3 separate regions of the Homo sapiens genome follow, and regions 2 and 3 are each reported to be linked to region 1. The links are microRNA targets in miRTarBase. Many come from high-throughput screens and were not tested one by one. Region 1 holds a microRNA gene; each other region holds the end of a gene's coding sequence.

Evidence for each region. Region 1 holds the annotated microRNA hsa-miR-6820-3p (UGUGACUUCUCCCCUGCCACAG, at 4,575-4,596, opposite strand). A microRNA usually pairs through its seed, bases 2 to 8, with sites in the 3' UTR of a target mRNA and lowers its output. Matches are read on the target gene's strand: a 7mer-m8 pairs with bases 2 to 8, a 7mer-A1 pairs with bases 2 to 7 and ends in A, and an 8mer does both.
Region 2: the mRNA of CTTNBP2NL is a reported target of hsa-miR-6820-3p. Seed matches in the 3' UTR shown: 7mer-m8 at 1,775-1,781.
Region 3: miRTarBase lists ERGIC1 as a target of hsa-miR-6820-3p. Seed matches in the 3' UTR shown: 7mer-A1 at 1,957-1,963.

What each region holds. Positions count from the first base shown.
Region 1 is chr22:37,965,005-37,972,198 of GRCh38, reverse strand. It overlaps MIR6820 (microRNA 6820), which reads right to left and starts at 4,636; the gene lies at 4,575-4,636. It overlaps POLR2F (RNA polymerase II, I and III subunit F), which reads right to left. Exons shown (of 5, transcript NM_021974.5): 4 at 5,029-5,100; 5 at 2,887-4,574. The coding sequence ends at 4,484. RefSeq lists enhancers at 1-453, 3,383-3,677, 4,060-4,560, 6,794-7,194.
Region 2 is chr1:112,456,326-112,463,515 of GRCh38, forward strand. It overlaps CTTNBP2NL (CTTNBP2 N-terminal like), which reads left to right. Exons shown (of 6, transcript NM_018704.3): 6 at 1-4,839. The coding sequence ends at 1,087. MIR4256 (microRNA 4256) reads right to left here and starts at 5,508; the gene lies at 5,445-5,508.
Region 3 is chr5:172,949,561-172,956,733 of GRCh38, forward strand. It overlaps ERGIC1 (endoplasmic reticulum-golgi intermediate compartment 1), which reads left to right. Exons shown (of 10, transcript NM_001031711.3): 10 at 1,149-3,123. The coding sequence ends at 1,256. It overlaps RPL26L1-AS1 (RPL26L1 antisense RNA 1), which reads right to left. Exons shown (of 4, transcript NR_026682.1): 4 at 5,222-6,468. It also overlaps a transcript of RPL26L1 not described here. Among named protein-coding and RNA genes, the nearest start is that of RPL26L1-AS1, 6.2 kb to the right of the region's middle. RefSeq lists an enhancer at 5,511-6,710.

The sequences.
Region 1 (7,194 bases):
AAGGTCTCTCTCTCCCACCTCCCTCCCTCTTTCCCCACCCCCTTCCCCTCCCCCCTCCTCTCTCTCTCCCCCCTCCCTTCTCTCCTCTCTTTCTCTCTCTCTCTCCCCCCTCCCCCTCTCCTTTCTCTCTCTCTCCCCCCTCCCACTCTCCTCTCTCTCTTTCTGTCTCTCTCCCTGCTAAGAAAGTGGGAACAATGGAGAGTGTTAGGACAGCTGGCATCCCAGTGGGGTCCATCTGAGCTCAGGGACTGAAGCCTCAGATGGGAACTTCTCCCCAGCCCGGCGGCTATGCCCCACACTGCAGGGGGGCCACTCACTCTTAACTGGCTCAGCTAGAACTCACTGCCTTGCAAGCAGCCCCTCTGCTCACCCAGCACTCAGCAGACGGGAGTTTGCAAAGAATTCAAGAGACAGGTATCTGAAGAGGAGGAGGTGGGCTGAGGGTGACACCGTGCTGCCTGCAGTCAGAGGCCTGTCCTTCAGGATGTGTGGATAGGCCCTGTGTTGCTGCATCCCCCCACTTGCCACCTCCCCCAGCACACACACAGCAGCCCACGCCAGGATCTAGCCAAGCCTTCACAGCAGGTGCCCATGTCCAAGTCCAGACCAAGGATGTCAGACAGTCTACTCCTTAAGCGCCTACTCCCTAAGAGCTCTTTCCTCAGCAGAAGTCCAAACTGCACCCAGAGGCCAGGACCACTCCACCTCACAAGCACACAACTCCAAAGACTCTTTGCCATCTTGCTCCACTGATGAACAACTCCGATGGTTGGAAGTTCTTCCTCATACCCAGCTCATAACAGCTTATATCCAGCTGCCATTTACTAAGTGCTCCACCAAGGGTTTTATGTCATTCAGGCCAGTGAAGGGGTAGGTCCGATCGTTATCTCAATTTTCCAGATGGGGAAACTGAAGTTTGCGAGGCTGATGCTAAGAAGTGCTGGTGCCAGAATCTGAACCCAGCTCTGACTCCAAGGCTTGCATTTTTAACCATCATCCCCTCCACCTGCCTGTGGTTTGCAGCCCCTGCTTCTGCTTTGTATCTGGAGCAATGCATCTTCCACTGCTCCAGACTGGGCATCCTCAGCTCCCTTCCTTCCATCTGCGGTCTCCAGCCCCTAGTCAGGACCAGGGGAGAGGCAGGGCACCAAGAAGTAGCCCAGTCCCCAGGGTGGCCAAAATCCCTCCATCTAGGACCTGCATCATGGAAGCTCTTCAAGCAACCTCCCCAAAACTGCTGGTTCCCGTGAAGCTGGATGGTAACCGAAACCCCGATCTTTTAGACAATATCCATTGCAAAGTCATATCCAAATTGTATGTATGCTGTTTTTGTTTTGTTTTAGATAAAAGCAGGACTTTACACTGATCTTTAACAGATCTCACCTTGTTGGGTTTGACCCATTTCCCCACCTGTATTAAACTTTTTAGAACTTAGCTCTCCTTTAGAGCTTTATGTATCTGCAAACTTGAATAGCCTCATTCAAGTCACTAATAAAGGTCGAAATGAAGAGGGACACCTGTGTACAGCATTAAACGCCTCTCTCCACTGTCAGTCCTATTATCTCCACTCTTTTTTTTTTTTTTTTTTTTTTTTAGATGGAGTCTTGCTCTGTTGCCAGGCTGGAGTGCAATGTTGCAATCTTGGCTCCCTGCAACTTCTGTCTCCTGGGTTCAAGTGCTTCCCCTGCCTCAGCCTCCCGAGTAGCTGGGACTACAGGTGTGCACCACCACGCCCAGCTAATTTTTTTTTTTTTTTTTTAAGTAGAGACAGGGTTTCACCATGTTGTCTAGGATGGTCTCAATCTCCTGACCTCATGATCCGCTTGCCTCGGCCTCCTAAAGTGCTGGGATTACAGGCGTAAGCCACCGCACCTGGCCTATTATCTCCACTCTTTTTTTTTTTTTGAGACGGAGTCTCTCTCTGTCGCCCAGGCTGGAGTGCAGTAGCGGGATCTCGGCTCACTGCAAGCTCCGCCTCCCGGGTTCACGCCATTCTCCCGCCTCAGCCTCCCGAGTAGCTGGGATTACAGGCGCCCGCCACCACACCTGGCTAATTTTTTGTATTTTTTAGTACAGACGGGGTTTCACTGTGTTAGCCAGGATGGTCTTGATCTCCTGACCTCGTGATCTGCCAACCTCAGCCTCCCAAAGTGCTGGGATTACAGGTGTGAGCCACCACGCCCAGCTATTATCTCCACTCTTGAGGCTGTCTAATCAGTTCTAAAACTGTCTAATTACATCACCATGAAGCACACACTTCTCTGTCACAGTGGCATGGAGACTACTGATGCCTTGTCAAAATCAAGATTCACTGATCTCTGGCATTCTCTCAACCTACTGGACCAGTAACCATCGAAAAAAAAACTTATTTGGCAATATTGGTTCTTAGACACCCTATGCTAGTGCCCGATCTCCTCTTTATTATATAAGCACTTTTAAACATGGAGGGACCTATTCTAGAATTTTGTCATGGATCAATCAGTACTAACCTTATGTGTTTATAATCTTTACAACCCACCCTTTCCCCTTCATTGAAAGGCAGGACTTTTGTCCATTTGTGGTCTGTTCACTACTCCTGCTCGCCGTGGGATGAGGGATATGGAGCTGGCACAGTGGGGAGCAGGGGGCACATCCGGAAGATGACACTATCACCTCCAAGACCCCACATCTCATGAGAGTGAGTGGGAAATCACTGAGGATGTGGAAGGAGGGGAAATGACCCCAAGGAAGTCAGAAGACCTGGGTTGTGTGCATCCCTTAGACCAAAGGTTCCAAGTGTGCACAGGCCTCAGGAAGGCAGGAGCTCCACTTGTTAAAAAAGGGTCAGGTGTTTCTGGAAATGACTCAAGAGACTATGCCCAAACCCTAAGAAAACAGAACCAATAGTGGTGACCGGGACATTTTATTCAAGAGAAGTCAAAAGCCAGGCCCAGACAGCTGAATAGCAGGGGACTCCCCAAAAGAGGAGAATGGGAAGAGGAAGACAGGAGGAAAAACACCCCTTCTGTCCCATTTCCCTTGCACTCTATCCCCTAAGGGTTAACCCCCAATTCCCCTCCTCCCCAGCCCAAACCCCATCTCCCTTTAATCACATCTGATACTGAGCAGCCCAGCAGGGAACAAAGAGACCATTTAGAGAAATGGGGCCGAGAAAGTGACCCCCGCACTCTGGGGCGGCTGCCTGGATGCCAGCACAAAGGCGGCATTTCAGAGCTGAAATTTCAGCACCCAACTTGATTAAAGGATTCCACAGGCTTGGAGGAGGGTGGATGGGAGTGTGAAGTCCACTGCTCCCTGAATTAACCCTTCTCCAGGGCAGCGGACACCCCTCCCACCAATGCAGATCCTCACCATTCACTCCCCACATCCCATCCCAGGGCCAGGCTGCACCTAGGCCTGGAGGCCCTGCCTCCTGCAGAGGTTAGGGAAGCCCAGCTCCTCCTCTTTGAAGGGGAGCTGGCAGTGGAATGGAGGTTAAGGCTGGCATATTCAGGGAGCCAGTTTACCCTCTATCCCTGTTCATGTCAATATACACCCTCCCCCTGACCCCCTCTAGGAGGGAGGAGCCAGTGTGACTGGTCTTACCTCAGGTTGGGTAAGCAGGGTGGAGAAAGGAAGAGGACCCATTAGAACCTCAGGCAGAGGAAGGGGGAACTCCAGCTCTGACTTAATGTAACACCTGGAACCCAGGAGCACCACCACCCCAGCACCATGTCCCCAAGGCCTCAGGGGATCACCAGCCCCAAATAGGAGGGAAAGGATATCTTATAGAGGCTAGGAAGAAGGCATGGGTGTGGCACACCAAAGAGGTGGGCCACAGAGGACAGCGTGTGGGCAGAGTCCTGAGGAGGAGTGGGGACAGAGCCATGGGGGCAGGGGTAGGCAGGTGCTCGGTCCTTGCTCCAGCTGCTGACTTGCCCAGCAGGGCTCTGCCTGGGGAGGGTGGGAGATCAGCACACCCCCACGCTTCCTGCTGGGGCACTGCTCCTGAAAGGGGATCCGAGCCCACGATAAGAGGCTCGAAGCAGGTCCTTAGGAAACAATGGGTGGCTTGATGAGACCTGCTCTGTGATACTCCTGAGAAGGGAGAAGCCCCTGCAGCCAGTCCCCACTGGAAAGGAAATTGGGGGTTTCCGTGGCAACCAGCTCCCTGGGCACAAAGACTTGTCTGTCTGCTTGGAAGGCAGCTGAGGTGTCTCCCCTGCAGCAGCCTTTGCTCTGGGGAACAGGGAGATGGAGGGAAGGATGTGGGGGATCCAAAGGGGCTAAGGGCCCCTGGTGCTTCTTAAGGAGCTGACAGTCACAGGGCCACTGGAATAGGTGCATGCTCCACGCAGCATGGCGGTAACGGGGAAGCAACAGGTGGTGACATTGCAGATAAGCAGAGGGGAAGGGGGTTGGAAAGTTGAATATTTTATTATTTACACATATAAAGTGAGAATGAAAATTGGGCATGGGGCAAGGGCAGGAAGATGACTCCAGCTCAGTCGGTGATGATGAGCTCGTCCACCCCCCAGTCTTCATAGCTCCCATCTGGCAGGTAACGGCGAATGATGATGGGGATCTTTCGGGCCCTGTGGCAGGGGAGAAGTCACAAGTACATGAGGGCTGGTGACCCCAGCTCTGCCGCAGAAGGAACAGATTGTGTGCAAAACACAAGCAAAGAGAAGTCTTAGGAGCAGCCTCTTGGGGCTGATGAGTGTACTTTGTAAGAAAGCAATTACAAGAAAAAGAAAGTTTTTATATCAGACAAGAGGGGGAAGAATGACAGAATATTGGTAAGGCCTCCTGCAGCAGGAACAGGGAAATTCCAACAGCCAGAAGACGTCCATGTCTCATCAGTGCCCTCCCACTTTCCCTGCCTCCTCTTCTCTCTTCCTCCTACTTCCTGGTGAGCTGTTCCTAAGGATCTGTAGGAATAAGCATCAACTTCTCCAGCCAGGCAAGTGGGAGCAAAGGGTGCAACAGAGAGCCCAACAGATGCCTCCCAGAGATTTGGAGAAGTGAACCATGATTTGAGTGACTTACTTGAGTTCCTTCATGGCAATGAGCAGAGGATCTGTCTCCCCCTCCAGCTCCACCATCACAGGGGCACACATCCTGTAGGGATAGGGACAGGTGTTAGGGAGACTACAAACCCAGGGAGAAGGGCCCAACAGGCAGTGAGGGTGGAACGGCATCCTGGTCCCCACCTAGAAACGTCATCTTCTAGGTAGGCAGGCACAGTAGGGAGTGGTGTGTAGGGGCACTGCCAGAGATCTTCCCTGGCAGAGGCCTATCACAGACTCCGGAGTCCAGCGGCCACAGCAGAATGTCCTGGTGGAAAGGGAGACATGTGCAAAGGCACACCATTCTAACTGCTCCAACCCCAGAGCCTTGCCTCAGTGCCCAGTGCACCTCATTTCAATTTCTATTTTCTCTCTCTACTTTTTGGAGACAAGGTTTCACTCCCATTGCCCAGACTGGAGTGCAATGGGGAGATCGTGGCTCACTGCAACCTCCACCTCCCAGGCTCAAGCAATTCTCCTGCTTGGGACTACAGGCATACACCACCAGCTATGCTAATTTTTTTATTTTTTGTATAGATGGGTGAAATTAACATTTCGCCATGTTGCCCAGGCTGGTCTCGAACTCCTGGGCTCAAGCAATCCGCCTGCCTCAGCCTTCCAGATTGCTGGGATGAAAGGCATGAGCCACCATGCCCGGCATCATTTCCATTCTCTATAGACACAACACCTCAGTAGAGGCCCTGCCCTTCCTGCCCAGCCCTCCCCACCCTTCACCTGAGGCCAGCAGTCAGGGGGCTCACCTGCTTACAACACTGTCATGACTCCCCTTGGCTATCAGGCCAGAGTGCAGTCTGGTCCCTGTTTGCCTTCCTAGCACAGTCCCGTGCTACTTTCCTGTATTTACTCCACATTCCAGCCATACCAAACTATTTCTGGTTCCCTAGATGCGCCATGTTGTTTCCCTTTTGTGTGCTCTTACAAGCTCTTCCTCTCCCTAAAAACCTGCGAGAGGTTCAGATGTCTCCACCCTGGAAATCGTGTGCTGACTCTTCAGTACCTGGACTCATTTTGCATATACTTTTCTTGGCACCAATCTCATTGAACTGTAACTACTTGTTTGGAAACTTTCCACATTAGACCATGAGCTCCTAGTGGCCCAGAACCACATGTGATTCACCACGGAGGCCCAGCCCCCAGCATAACACTTGGCCCACAGTGGGGACTCTACCACCAAGCAAAGGGATGCCAATTCTAGGCCCATCTCCTCTAGGAAGCCACCCCTGATGATTCCAGCTCAGGTTCACACCAACAAATCCAGAATTAACAGGAGAGCATGCTAAAAAATACAGGTTCCTGGGTCCTTCCCCAGACCCCCGGAATAGAATCTCTAGTGAAGCGGCCTGAGAGCCTGCATTTGCAAAACTGCCCAGATGATTCTGATAATCAGCTAGTCTGAGAGCTACCAGCTTACTAATTTTATTACTAAATATTTCGATTTATATTACTCCCAAAAGCCTGAAAATTTCCCAAGGGCAGAGATGAAGTATTTAACTTTCCCTATATCCTCTCTTAATAAGTATTTAAACTTTCCCAAAATATAAAGCTTTAAAGAATGTGGCAAAATACCTGATCTGCATGTGCCTGCTTTCTTTCAAAATATAAATAATTCAAGGGCATTCACTCATTCCGCACCTATTATGCACATGGAATGTGCAAGAATGTGTCCTTAAGTAATTTAATTTTTCTTGCACCATGGCTTCTACAGAGAAACACATCAACCATCCAGTTAAGAAGTAGATGTGACAAACATCATCAGCCACCAGGTGGTGCTAATGAACCAGACTGAAACCCCATCCAAAACCTACCCAACAAACAGTTGTTCTGGCCAGGTGCAGTGGCTCACGCCTCTAATCACAGCACTTTGGGAGGCTGAGACAGGTGAATCACCTGAGGTCAGGAGTTTGAGACCAGCCTGGCCAACATGGTGAAACCCCGTCTCTACTAAAAATACAAAAAATTAGCCGGCCGTGGTGGCACATGCCTGTAGTCCCAGATACTCGAGAGGCTGAGGCATGAGAATCGCTTGAACCAGGAGGTGAAGGTTGCAGTGAGCCGAGATGGCACCACTGCACTCCAGCCTAGGTGACAGAGTGAGACTCCACCTGCACCTACCAAGTGCAGAGTC
Region 2 (7,190 bases), not on the chromosome of region 1:
GGCTTCCCACCAGCACAGTAGCCCTAATGAGCAATTGAAGAAACCAGTAACCGTGTCCAAAGGCACAGCAACTGAGCCTCTCATGCTAATGTCTGTGTTTTGCCAAACAGAGAGTTTTCCAGCAGAAAGAACCCATGGGAGCAACATAGCCAAGATGACAAACACTGGGCTGCCTGGTCCTGCCACTCCTGCTTACTCATATGCAAAAACCAATGGCCATTGTGACCCAGAGATACAAACTACCAGGGAGCTGACTGCAGGCAACAATGTAGAAAACCAGGTGCCTCCACGGGAAAAATCTGTGGCATTGGCCCAAGAGAAACCAGTGGAGAATGGTGGGTGTCCTGTGGGGATTGAGACTCCAGTCCCAATGCCCAGTCCCCTCTCTTCCAGTGGGAGCTCACTGTCTCCCAGCAGCACTGCCTCCTCCTCTCTAACATCCTCTCCTTGCTCTTCGCCGGTACTCACTAAGCGTTTATTGGGGTCATCAGCTAGCAGCCCTGGCTACCAGTCATCGTACCAAGTAGGGATCAACCAACGGTTCCATGCAGCTCGCCACAAATTTCAGTCCCAAGCAGATCAGGACCAACAAGCCAGTGGCCTACAGAGCCCTCCATCCAGGGATTTATCCCCCACCCTCATAGACAACTCTGCCGCCAAGCAGCTGGCCCGAAACACAGTCACTCAGGTGCTCTCCAGATTCACTAGCCAACAAGGGCCAATCAAGCCAGTCTCTCCCAACAGCTCTCCCTTTGGCACAGACTATCGAAATCTAGCCAACACTGCCAATCCAAGAGGTGACACAAGCCATTCACCTACTCCAGGGAAAGTGTCCAGTCCCCTGAGCCCCCTGTCTCCAGGAATCAAGTCCCCAACCATCCCCAGAGCTGAGAGAGGAAACCCTCCACCCATCCCACCCAAGAAACCTGGCCTCACCCCTTCTCCATCTGCTACCACTCCATTGACCAAAACTCATTCCCAGGCAGCCTCTTTGACCACTGCAGAAGACCTTGCCAGCAGCTGCTCTTCCAATACTGTTGTAGCAAATGGTAAGGATGTTGAGTTACTTTTGCCTACCAGCAGCTAGTCCCTAGGAGGGAGTCTCCACGTTTGACATTCCATCAGATTTCGTCCAAAAGCTCAGTCAGACTTCTGAGTCAGATTATGTTATTTATTTTGATAGTAGCTGAAACCATCTGTATAATACATTTAGTATATTTCACCATTTTGTATTTTTTTAAGTAGAAACTGAGTAGTTTGGATTTTTATGGCTCACATCTTTTTACTGAAGCCAGAAAGGCACCTCAAAGATGTCTCAAGCTCAGCAGTCACCGTCATGTTGTGATGAAGAAAGCGAATCACCAGGTGGTGATTTGCTATCTATTTGAGAACTAGAATCACTCAACACTCATTTTGAATTATGCAGAAGTGGTTCATGCAGATTTTTATTCCAGATGAACATGTTTTAAAAGTGCCTGAAATATGACTGCCATATGAATGTGATTCTGCAGCAAAAAACACAAAATAGATCATTTAATTACAGAAAATGAGATCCTCTGTGAATTCTGAATGTTAAAAACCAACACTGCTTTTAATCCTCTTTTAATGTTTTAATACAAGCTTTGTGTTCTGAAACAAGGCTGCATAAGTAGAATGGGAATCCTTCTAAAGGTGGGTGTGAACTCACCACAAGCTGAGCTTTATAGAGCCCTTGAGAAACCCTCCTGAGCACTAAGCAGTTGGGGTGCTGATTTTCTTGTACTTTTGAAAAATTAAGTCACTCCCAGTTTCCTGCATAAGTTCTTGAACAGAATGAAATCACATCTCCATTCAAAAAATGTCTCAAGCATCTACTGTTGTGTAAGGAACTTCTGATTCTGATTGCTGTTACTTGAATAGGAAATGGTTACTCATTCTGTATAAAAGTTTTGCAAGAGAATGAATTTTTTATTCTGTAATCAAAAAGCAATAACTTGAAATTCACTCTGTAATATTATAGGTCAGTCAGAATTATACAAGTTTTACCAAATTGTTACACTTATTCTCCAAGCTGCCAGAACCTGGTATCTGTATCTGTAAAACCAAATTAACTTTTGCTTAAATGGGAAGTATACATATATCTGTATAGATACATTACCCCTTTACATGTTTAACATACACACACTTAAACACATAAATACTAGTGTGATTATATCTTTGGAGTTTGCAATATAGCATAAAGGACAAGTAGAACTGCACATTAAGATTACCTACCGAAGCAACTAGATGTGGCTGGGACACAATCAAAGGAGGAATTTTGTCCACAGGAAGGTGAGGAAATTCCAAATGAAGCCTAGATCTTCAGTATCATAAAAAGGCAGAGCTGGCCAGGCACAGTGGCTCATGCCTGTAATCTTATCACTTTGGGAGGCTGAGATGGGAGGATCTCTTGAGACCAGGTGTTCAAGACCAGCCTCATCAACATAGTGAGACCCCATCTCTATTAAAAAAATAAATAGGCAGAGCTAAACTAACCCCAGTGTCACAAAACTCAACTGGTCATATAAATGAGTGAAACAGGCCTCTCACACAAGCGATGTAAAACAGCTGGGAGCAGTGGGAGCTGTGGCAAACTAAAGTGCCCAAGCCGCATTTAAAAAGGGCATCTGTTCAGCTCCATCTGCTTGCTGCGGTGCAAGAATGCTAAACCAGGATTACCAGTTCTTCACATTTTTTGAAATCCAAATTTTCATGAGAAACATTCTCATTTTTAAATATCAAGAAGTGATTTTAAAATGTTTAAATGGTGCTGGTTAAACAAACACGTCTGCAGCTGGATTTAGCTTGCAAGCTGCCAAGTTGCAACCTCTTTCATTCTAGAAACTTCTGTCATTTTCATCATAGCAAGTCTATGCGGACAAAAGCCTCCAAACTTTCCAACTGTGTAGGCCAGTACAGCTGGCAAGGTTCATAGAATATAATGGCTATCCCCCTCTGCCAAATAAGACTATCCACAACCCAGCTCAGACACAGTGGTTATATGATTTTGTGTCCATACAGGAGAGGCCTTGGTGTCTTCACATACATTCTCTGAGCCAACATCTATCCAGCAGCCCTGACCTCCTGCTATAATTTAAGTCTATTTCCTTTTAATCTAATAAGAGTTGATAGTAAAAAGGCAGGTGATGGAAATCAGTGTATAAATCACAATGGAGTATATTGGCAACTCCACAGCTTATAGTTTGATAAAGGCAAATACATGAAAAATAAAAATGCTACTAATGCCCCAAGGTGTCTATCAAAATGATGTAGGGGGTATCTTAAACTGTCCAAGGCAATCATGCATTGAACTTTATTCCTATGCAGAGCCAAAACGAATAGTGTTGATAAAATAGCTAAACTTTCTAAACTGGAGAGGAGGCTACAGTGCCAGAGAGTTATTGTCTCTTTTGCTTTAAATGGTAATCTTAAAAGTTGCATTGTGCTCTTCCTTTGTTTTGGGATAGATATATATAGAGAGAGATACTATAAGGAAGTTTATTTCTTAGGAAGTGCACTGAATAATGTATTTCTTTTACAGTGTAATATGGGGGTGGGGATATGCGAAAGAAATGTGTATTTTTGCTAGTTGCCTACCTTCTGAGATAAATAAGCACAATCTTGCAATGGATCCAATAACCCAGTTAGGTATTATAGATTAGTATTTAAGTTTGCTGTAGATTGTGTGTGTGTGTGCTAAGTAAAAGTTCCATGATTCACAATTTTAGTATTAACCCATGTTGCAAAAGCTGTTACTGGCCAACAGATTGTAATGATGTGTACCATATAACACAAGCATTAACTAGGCATTAACGTTTGTAAAGCCAAATATACCATGCAGAAGTCTTCATTTTTATAGCAGACTGCATTAAAACAAGTTAAATCTTGCTGTTTGGGGGGAAATAGTCTTGTTTGTACAAAGTGAAAAATGGCACAATTTGGGCATATTTTGTTGGGAAGAGGGGGTGGTGTAGAGGGAGCACTTGACTGTGGCTTTGACAAAACAAATGAAGTCAATGACCCATCCAGGTTAGACTCCATAAGGAACTAAGACATTGATTTTCTTTAGAGTCTTAGAGCTGGAAAAAGCCTTTACAATAATCCAGTCTGTGATTTTTTAAACCTTTTGGTGGTTCTGGACCTTTTTGAGAATCTTAGAAAAGCCATGGAGTTTATCCCTAGAAAAATGAATATGCCTATATGCAAAATTTGTTTGATGGCTTCATAGGATCCAAAGACCCTGAAGCCATCCATGGCTCATGTATTTCTGCTTAAGAAAGCATAATCTTGTTCTGCTCTCTCATTTTACAAATGATTAATGCATCCCTTTTCAACTACTCCAGCGCTGTTGCTGCTGCAATGTTAGCAAATGCAAGCCAGAGAGAAGCACTTGAAAATCCTTTGATGTCTAAAAAATGTTCAAATAGTGTGGATGTTTACATATCTGAAGTTTTCAGCATTTAAGCAAATTAATGATCATTTCAACAAATACTAGCATATCCGGTTTCCCTTAATAGCCTGTCAGCAGTGCTGCCTTGTCAATTTGTGTGTGTGTGTGTGTATGTGTGTGTGTGTGTGAATTCATAAGGAGTGCTTCTGATGCTTAGTCCTTGAAATGGAACTTCAACTGTCTTTCAAAACACTGGCTTCAAAATAGGATGTGTTTTCCTAATGAATCAGAAGTGGGCAATGAGCATTGTTCCACAGGAATAATTTTTAATTTAATTTCTATAAAACTAGTTGAGAAATGAGAGCCTGTCCACCCACCATTTGTGTATCAGTGGCCAATTCATTAGTAAAAATAAAGGAGGGGAAAGGAGACTGGAGTAGTGGTTCTCAAACTTTACTGTGCGTAAGTATAACCTGGGAAGCCTGCTAAAATAAAGATTTCTGGAGATTAGATCCTCAGACTAGCTGATGCAGCTAGTCTGTTTTGAGAAACAGTCCTTCATAGCCCTTACCTGTTCTTTCACAACAACTTGCTATTTGCCTCTGACCTAAGGAAATGTCTTAAGCTCCTGAAACTGGTTTGGCAGAATGTCAGTGATATTCAGAGTCAAGAGTGCCTACTTGAGTACCAAGCACCATGCTAATGATTTCACATACATATTACCTTATTAATCCTCACACGGGTGCTGTGAGGTATTATTATCCCCAGTGTAGTGATGAGGTAGTTGAGGGCCAGAGATCTGTGCAAGGGCCCTTAGCATATGACAGCCAGGATTTAAACCTTAGTGCTTTGTTCTTTCACTACCAGTATTTCCCAAATGAGAGTCTCTGGGGAGGAGCAGATTCCCAGGCTCCTCCCCTGGCGATTCTGATTTCAGTAGGCAAAGGTGGAGCTCTAGATAAATGCCTTGGTGATTCTTCAGATAGAGCAAGTTTAGAAAATGCATGCGGGACACCATGCTGCTCCACAGCCACCCCAGAAATGGATCATCAGACCTAATCAATGCCAGGAGACCTTCATCAGGTCAGATAAATGGAACAAAAATAAAACATCATTAATTCCCCTCAAACAACATGTTTTTTAAGTATCTAAGATGAACCAGAAAGCAAGGTGCTTATTAGGGAAGACACAAGTTTAATCCTGTTCCCTGCCCTTAGGGTACTCACAATCTAGTTGGGGAAACAAAACATTAACAAAATGATACATAGTGAGTCCAGAGGCAACAGTTTGATAGAATAATGCAGGCGAGCTTTTAAAAACCACAGGGAGGGCCAGGCGCGGTGGCTCTTGCCTGTAATCCCAGCACTTTGGGAGGCCGAGGCGGGTGGATCACGAGGTCAGGAGATTGAGACCATCCTGGCTAACACGGTGAAACCTCGTCTCTACTAAAAAATACAAAAAATTAGCCGGGTGTGGTAGCGGGCGCCTGTAGTCCCAGCTACTCGGAAGGCTGAGGCAGGAGAATGGCGTGAACTCGGGAGGCGGAGCATGCAGTGAGCCGAGATAGCGCCACTGCACTCCAGCCTGGGCGACAGAGCAAGGCTCTGTCTAAGAAAAAAAAACCATACACAGTTATTGAAGATGGTTCTGGTAAAAGCACTCTGGTAGCTCAGAGGTAACAGAGCTCTTTGTGGGCAGGAAAACATTAACTAGAAAGGGAATGAATGTCTTTTCTCCTCTCTCCAGGGCATTATTTACTTGGAGTTCTGTAACATGTCCCTGTGTTTGCTTTTTGTTTTAATTGGCTTGTCTTGATTCTAGGATAAGGTCAGAGACGGAGGCACAAGACGTCCCCAAGAGGTGAGTTCTGTTTCAGGGAGACTGACAGACACCAGTGGGTGCTTTCTTCAAGGGTTGGGGCTGACCTAAGAAGGAGCTCCCAGGCCACAGCATTCTGCAATACACTGTCCAATAATTTGTAGGGAAGATCTAGGAACATGCAAAAGGCAGTTTGAAAAAGGACCTGGTTGCCAAAGTACCATATTACCCATCAATGTCCTCTCCTACCCATTTCCCTTTTTCACACCCTCTAAATCTCTATAAGCAAATGCGGAAAATGCAAACTAAGCTTTGAACAGAATCAAATGAGTCCCTCTGGGACACTTGCAGGGGACTTATTTCTTCCGAAGGATGTGACAGCAGCTTCTCCCAATAGTGGCAGCGTTTGTTTCACTGTTAGACTGGAGGAGCACAAGGAGCATACAACATGTGGCTCTGTCCACACCACTGTGAAGTTGTTGGTTCTGAGAAATTACTGGGGGGAGTGTTAAAACAAGATTGGCCTTATCTCTGGGGAGTCACCTGTTTAACCTGACAAGAATCCTGCTCATTAACTCAATGTGTTAGACACTAGGATGTGCCACATGGGTTCCCTTTCAGGAGTGAAATTTAATTCCCTAGGTGCAGGGAATGCTGACAGTAAGTGGCCCTCAAGATATAACCCCTTATAGGAATTACCTTCACTGAAAGAAAATCAGCTTGACCAAAGTCACAGCTCCTTCCCTGGACAGCTCATATATTAATACAAAGACTGGGCATGGTGGCTGACACCTGTAATCCCAGCACTTTGGGAGACTGAGGCAGGTGGATCACTTGAGGTCAGGAGTTCGAGACTAGCCTGGTCAACATGGTGAAACCACATCTCTACTAACTAAAAAAAAAAAGCCAGGCATCGTGGCACAGACCTATAATCCCAGCTACTTGGGAGGCTGAAGCAGGGGAA
Region 3 (7,173 bases), not on the chromosome of region 1:
TATCCTCCTGCTACCGCCATTCTCAACCAGGGGCAATTTTGACATCTGGGGACATTTGGCAATGTTTGGAGACATTGTGGTTGTCACAGCGTGGCGGGGGGGGGTATGATTGGCATCTCCTGGGTAGAGGCCAGGGATGCTAAATCCTTCTGCAAAGGACAGCCCCTGTGGCAAAAAATTCTCTGGCCCCAAATGTCAATGGTGCCATTAGAAACCTTGCCCTGGCCAGGCACAGTGGCTCATGCTTGTAATCCCAGCACTTTGGGAGGCCGAGGCGGGTGGAGCACGAGGTCAGGAGATCAAGACCATCCTGGCTAACACGGTGAAACACCCCCACCCTGTCTCTACTAAAAATACAAAAAATTAGCCAGGCGCGGTGGCAGGCAGCTGTAGTCCCAGCTACTCGGGAGGCTGAGGCAGGAGAATGCCGTGAACCCGGGAGGCGGAGCTTGCAGTGAGCTGAGATCACGCCACTGCACTCCAGCCTGGAAGACAGAAAAAAAAGAAAAAGAAAAAGAAACCTTGCTCTAATAGAAGCTTTCTGGTAGCACCAAAGGCCTCTCTGTCCTTTGTAGCACTTGCCTTGGCTATAATTTTGCATTTATTGGTATGATTATTTGCTTACTACCCATCAAGTCCCAGGATGCCATTTCTTGGCTGTGTGACCTTGGGCCCCTGGGACTGCCTTTCAGAACCTCCATTTCCTTCATCTGCAAATGGGATTGTAAATATGTGATAAATTCAGAGTTGAGGTTAAGACCACAGGCTCCAGAGTTAAGACGTACCTGTGTTCAAGTTGCATCTCTGCTAGTGGTGAACTTAGGCAAGTCACCTGATGAACCTCAGTTTCCTCCGCTGTGAAATGGGTCTAATAATTCCCTTCCTCATTCAGAGGGTGAATATGGGAATTAAAGGAGCTCATAATGGTGAAAATTATTTTATTATTATTAAATCCACCATCCAACAACTGGTTTTCTTTGAGCCCTAAGTATGTTCCGGACTTGGTGACTATGTAGTGGGTATTATGGGCTTAACGGGCAATGTCTGCCTTGCAGAGCCCATCATCTCATGATGTGGGAGGGGTCTGGCCTGGTTCATCCTCCAGCACTGACTTCTGACACTCCCACCCCACCCCTGCCCTCTTGCAGATCTGTGCCATCATTGGCGGGACCTTCACCGTCGCCGGCATCCTGGACTCATGCATCTTCACAGCCTCTGAGGCCTGGAAGAAGATCCAGCTGGGCAAGATGCATTGACGCCACACCCAGCCTAATGGCCGAGGACCCTGGGCATCGCCAGCCTTGCCTCCAGTGCCCTGTCTCCTTTGGCCCTCAATCTGGTCCCAAATCTGGCTGTGTCCCAAAGGGTGTGTGGGAAGTGGGGGGAAAGTAGAGGATGGCTCGATGTTTTGCAGCTACCTCTTTTCCCCGTGTTTCTTTTTAGACAAATTACACTGCCTGAAGTTGCAGTTCCCCTTTCCCTGGGGAGCCCCAAGAACAGAGTCAGGCAAGGGGTGGGGAGTCCAGGGATCTTGGGGACCCCTCCTAGGAGAGCTGCAGTCTCTTCCCTCAGGGGAACATCCCAGAATGCATATCGATCAGCTCTCAGCCAGGCTTCGACAATCTCGCAGCCCCCACTAGGTGGACACATTAATGATTTGGTTTCTCCCCTGGGCAGCCAACCTGCCCCAGAGGCACCAGACCTGGGCTTTCAGCTTTGGGACCAGGCTGCCCAAAGGTACTCCTTTATACACCCGGCACCTTCCACGAAAGATGGTACTTCCCAAGCAAGCCCCTATGATTTGTCACTATAGATGGAACCCTGACTTCTGCCCCATCCCTTCCTGCCCAACCTAGAACCCAGGCCTCAAGTCTTTACCCCACCCCTTTCTTGTTCTTCCAAGAAGCAGATGCCCAGTTGCTCAGCAGCAGCGGTAGAGACTTGAATCTGCCCACCAGTCACAAGGCGGGTCACAGATTCCTCTTCCTCTCTTCTCCTCGTTCCTCTGAACCCTCCACCAATGTGCCTCAGCCTGTGTGCTGTGTGGCAACAGCATTCTGGTTCCCACTGCCAAGATCTCCCACCACTCTGCTGGGATCTGCAGTGGCAGGGAGTGGGGGTTGTGTAAAGGGGAAGTCATCTTTTGAGATCCAGATAGACATGGTTTGTGCACTTACGTCCAGATGGGAAGCATCCTTCCTGCAACCCTAAAATAATCATGCAGCCTCTCAGACGGACGCCATCGGTCCCAAGGCCTTAGGTGGAGGAAGCAAAGCAGGCCAGGCCTGTCCTGTCCGTGGACCTCTACCTTCTGGACTCCCTACGGGTGCAGAGCACTTGGGTTTCTCTACAGCCATCGTGGCCCACTTGACACTGTGCTCCTCCATCAGCTGGTCACATGCCAACACGTTCCCAGCCCCTGAGGCAGCTCCAGGGTGCCCCACCTGCTCCTGAGGTGGGTCCCTACCCTGCTGCTCCTCTTCATCCTTTCCCTTTTGTCCTGAAAGGGAGGAGCAATGGTCCAGGCATTAATTCCACCCAGGGAATTTTAGCTATGCCCTCATGTCCCAGGGAGAGAGCCACACGCCTGTTTTCCATTTATAGCAAGATTGTTTGCATACTTTTGTAATGAAGGGGAGTGTCCAGTGGAAGGATTTTTAAAATTATCTTATGGATAGCTCAAGTCTCTGCCATTTGTAATTTTTGGCTCTAAGCTCCGATTGGAGACGCTTCTCCTTGTGCATGTGAGTTGACTGATGTTGTGAGTGTAAATGCATTTGGTTATTTCTGGTATCGGTGGCCACTTGGATGGATTTTTTTACATTCTGTTCCCCAGTTACAGGAAGGAGTCCCTTTGGTGTGTGAATATGTGTGCCTGTAGAGGGTGGGGCAGGGTGGGGTGGGGATGGAAATGTGTGGCATGCACATGAGTTGAAATTCTTTTATGCATTTTTTTGAAGAAAAAAAAAAAAACAACTCTGAGGACATAGGGGATGTCAGTTTCCTATGGAAGAGACACCTCTGACCCGTTATTCTTATAATCAAAATCTGAAGGGAAAAAAATGTTTTAGTTCTTTCCCCACTCGTTGGGTTCAACTAGATTAAAAGGCTGATTTTCAGAAATATTATGGTGTGATTCTTTCTACCTTGACTGGGGCTGGGTGACCCAAAGGCTGGAATCACAGCCAGAATGGAATTCACTTCTAGAGGAGAGAAGGTAGAAGAGTTGAAAAGGAGATCTGTGAGGATGATCAGAAAGTCAAACCCCGGCCAGGCACGGTGGCTCACGCCTGTAATCCCAGCACTTTGGGAGGCCGAGGTGGGCCAATCAGGAGGTCAGGAGATCGAGACCATCCTGGCTAACATGGAGAAACCCCGTCTCTACTAAAAATACAAAAAATGAGCCAGGTGTGGTGGCGGGCGCCTGTAGTCCCAGCTACTCCAGAGGCTGAGGCAGGAGAATGGCATGAACCCAGAAGGCAGAGCTTGCAGTGAGCCGAGATCGTGCCACTGCACTCCAGCCTGGGCGACAGAGCGAGACTCCATCTCAAAAAAAAAAAAAAGTGAAACCCCCTTTGGCCAGGTGCAGTGGCTCACACCTGTATTCCCAACACTTTTGGGAGGCAGAGGCGGGTGGATCACCTGAGGTCAGGAGTTCAAAACCAGCCTGGCCAACATGGTGAAACCCCATCTCTACTAAAAATACAAAAAATAGCTGGGCGTGGTGGCAGGCACCTGTAATCCCAGCTACTCAGGAGGCTAAGGCAAGGAGAATCGCTTGAACCTGGAAGGCAGAGGTTTCAGTGAGCTGAGATCGCACCATTGCACTCCAGCCTGGGGGACAAAGCGAGACTCCGTCTCAAAAAAAAAAAAAAGAAAAGAAGAAAGAAAGTCAAGCCCCCTTAGATTAAGTCATTCCTTTATTGAGTCCCTACAGAATGTTCTTGGGTCTGTCACCTTCTAGCTGTGCAGCTTCAGTCCAGGTCCTTAACCTCTCAGTGCCTCAGATTTGTTGGGTGAAAATGAGGATAGTAATAAAACTACCACATAGGGCTGTTTCAGAAATAGAATCTATAACGTGCACAGAAATTATATTAGAATGAGATTGTCTATGTAGAAGAGTGTTTATTGCTGGTACACAGTAAGTTTTCACAAATGGTGATTGGACCATTATGAGCATTCCCAAATAGGATATAATCTTGAGAAAAGACTAACTTTAGAGCTTTGAGCTAAGGGCTCCATAAATGAAAGGTGATTCATAAATTCTTCTTGATTTCAAAGGACCTGGCACTCCTTTTTCAACCCTAAGCTCAGCAATGAGAGATCATCATCAGCTATGAGCAATGGACTTCCATGGATCTTTCCCATCTTGCTGCCAAGTCCTACAAGACTTTCATCAGAACAGCCCTAACACGGATAAACACACCAGGGATGAATGTGGGAGGGAATCAGTCTGTGAGAAATTCTTAACTCTCCCCATGCTCTCGCTCTTACATCCTGATACTTGAGTTATGTGTGTTCCCAAACGTGTTTATACCAGTTGTGCTTTTATACTGGTAGGATGTGATTTGGGGAACTATTAGTTAAACCAATGAGCTACAAGAAATGAACCTAGTAAAACTAAGTTGAATGCTTTAGAGAGACTTGATTAAGGTGAGTTGTTACCCCTCCCAACTCAAAATGCTGCTGAATGAGAAGTGAACAAGACAACTGTAAAAGATTTGGGAGGCCGGACGCGATGGTTCACGCCTATAATCCCAGCACCGGGAGGCTGAGGTGAGAGGATTGCTTGAGCCCAAGAGTTTGAGACCAGTCTGGGCAACATGATGAAACCCCGTCTCTATAGAAAAAATACAAAAATTAGTGGGCGTGGTGGCCTGTAGTCCCAGCCACCTGGGAGGCTGCGGTGGGGGCAGGGGCGGCGGGGGGGAAGTGGGGGGAGTGGTGGAGGCTGCAGTGAACCAAGATCTAGCCGCTGCACTCCAGCCTGGGTGACAGAGTGAAACTCTGTCTCAAAAAAGAGAGAAAGAGAGAGGGAGGGAGGGAGAGAGGAAGAGGGAAGGTGGGTGTGGAGAGGGAGAGAGACAGAGAACGGAACAACTGAAGATTTTTGGTTGGTTTATGTAAGGAAAATGGAGGGGAACACCGATACAGGTTTCTCTGTAAGGTAGAGCCTTAGCCCAGGGTCATTGTCGAATGTGTTTTACGTTGGCATACAACATTTAAGGGATGGATGCCATTTTTATTATTTCTCCTTTCAATGAACTTTTCCAATTGTCTAACCAGATGTGGATTACAGTGGTTTCATATAAGAGGATTTCTAAATCAGGATTACAGAGCAAAACCCTCCAGGGGTGCGTGACAGGTTGGGAGCTGTGGTGGGTCCAGGCAGAAATGGCTTCCCTGGGAAGTTGCGGAAGAGGCGTCTCTGGAGACGTGCTTCGTGAGGAGAGAAGCTGAAGTGTTGCAAACAACACTGGTTGGGGTGGGTGAAACCTGGGAAGAGGGGGTGAAACCTGGGAAGAAATGGGGTGTGGCACTAGAGTTCATAAATAGTAGCTGTGGTTAGTTTTTTTTTTTTTTTTTTTTTTTTGAGACGGAGTCATTGCCCAGGCTGGAGTGCAATGGCGCGATATCGGCTCACTGCAACATCTACCTCCCAGATTCAAGCAGTTCTCCTGTTTCAGCCTCCTGAGTAGCTGAGATTACAGGCGCCCACCACCATGCCCAGCTAATTTTTGTATTTTTAGGAGAAACAGGGTTTCACCATATTGGTCAGGCTGGTCTCGAACTCCTGACCTCAGGTGATCCACCTGCCTCAGCCTCCCAAAGTGCTGGGATTACAGGCGTGAGCCACTGCGCCCAGCCTGTGGTTAGTTTTTATTACTATATGTTACAAATAATTTTTAAATTCTTGCCGGAAACAATGTGGGAGGCCACTGGAGGTCTCAATCCCTTCTTAAGAAACTGGTCCTTTATTCCAGAAGGTTCATTAGCTGCTGCGGCAGTTAGATGCAGTGGTCCAGGAACGTGAGTGGGGATGTGTGTGGACAAGAATACTCACTGGAGACCCTTTTTTCTTGCCCTAGCAGTTGTTTCCTGTCAGTTATGGAGTGATGAGGTCACGCACTTCATTCTGGCCAGTCATTAATATGATTTGGCATTCTCTGCATGCCAGGCAAGAGTGACTGCTCTTCAGGCCAGATCTTCCTTCGAGATGGATGTTATCTCCTTTTTAGGAAGGAGGAAACAGAGAGACCTCGTAACTTGGCATGGCCACACAGTGAGTCACACAGTTAGTAAAGATGGAATTCATACCCAGGTCTGCCTGACTCTGGGATTACGAAGAATTACATGGTTCCACCTCAGTCCCAAGGTCATCTTTGCTGTGCCAAAAGGGAAAACTGGAAATAGGGGTGGTCAGAGCAGGAGGTGCTTTTTTTGGTTTTGTTTTTCCTTTAAAACAACCTGCAGAGAAAATCTAAATTAAACATTCGCAGGGACAGCGTTCTTACAATTTTTTAAATCTTCAAAATGTAATTTTAATTACACAAATAACACAGGCTCATAAGCCCACTGGAGGAAAATTATCAAATACTAAAAAAAGTAAAAGGGGAAAAACGAAAGTCACCCGTAATCCCACTAATCAGAGATGATCATTTAATGATAACATTTTAGTGATGCCTTTTGATAAGCAAAATGGGATCATACTGTTCATATTATTGTATAGCTTAGCCCTCACTTAACAGACATCTTCCTAGATTAATAAATACGGATCGCATTATTATCTTTATGGGCTGCAAGATAAATAATAACCATATTGAGCATCTAATGGTAGATTATGTCCATCCTTTGTTCCCATCTCACTCAGAGCCTCAGTTTTCTCACCTGTAAAAGGGACAATTCATACTGTTATTTAACGGACTGAAATGAGGTAATGCTTGTAAACCTGTTAGCACAATGCCTGACAGTAAATGCTCAGCCCATTAAGAAGAGCCATTATTATCCATCTAATAAATAAATAAATTCCAACATTTATTAAGTTCTTCCTCTGTGCCAGGTATTGTGCTAAGGGTTCATTTAATCCTGACACCAGGCCGGGTGTGGTGGCTCACATCTGTAATCCCAGCACTTTGGGAGGCTGAGGCAGGTGGATTGCTTGAGGTCATGAGT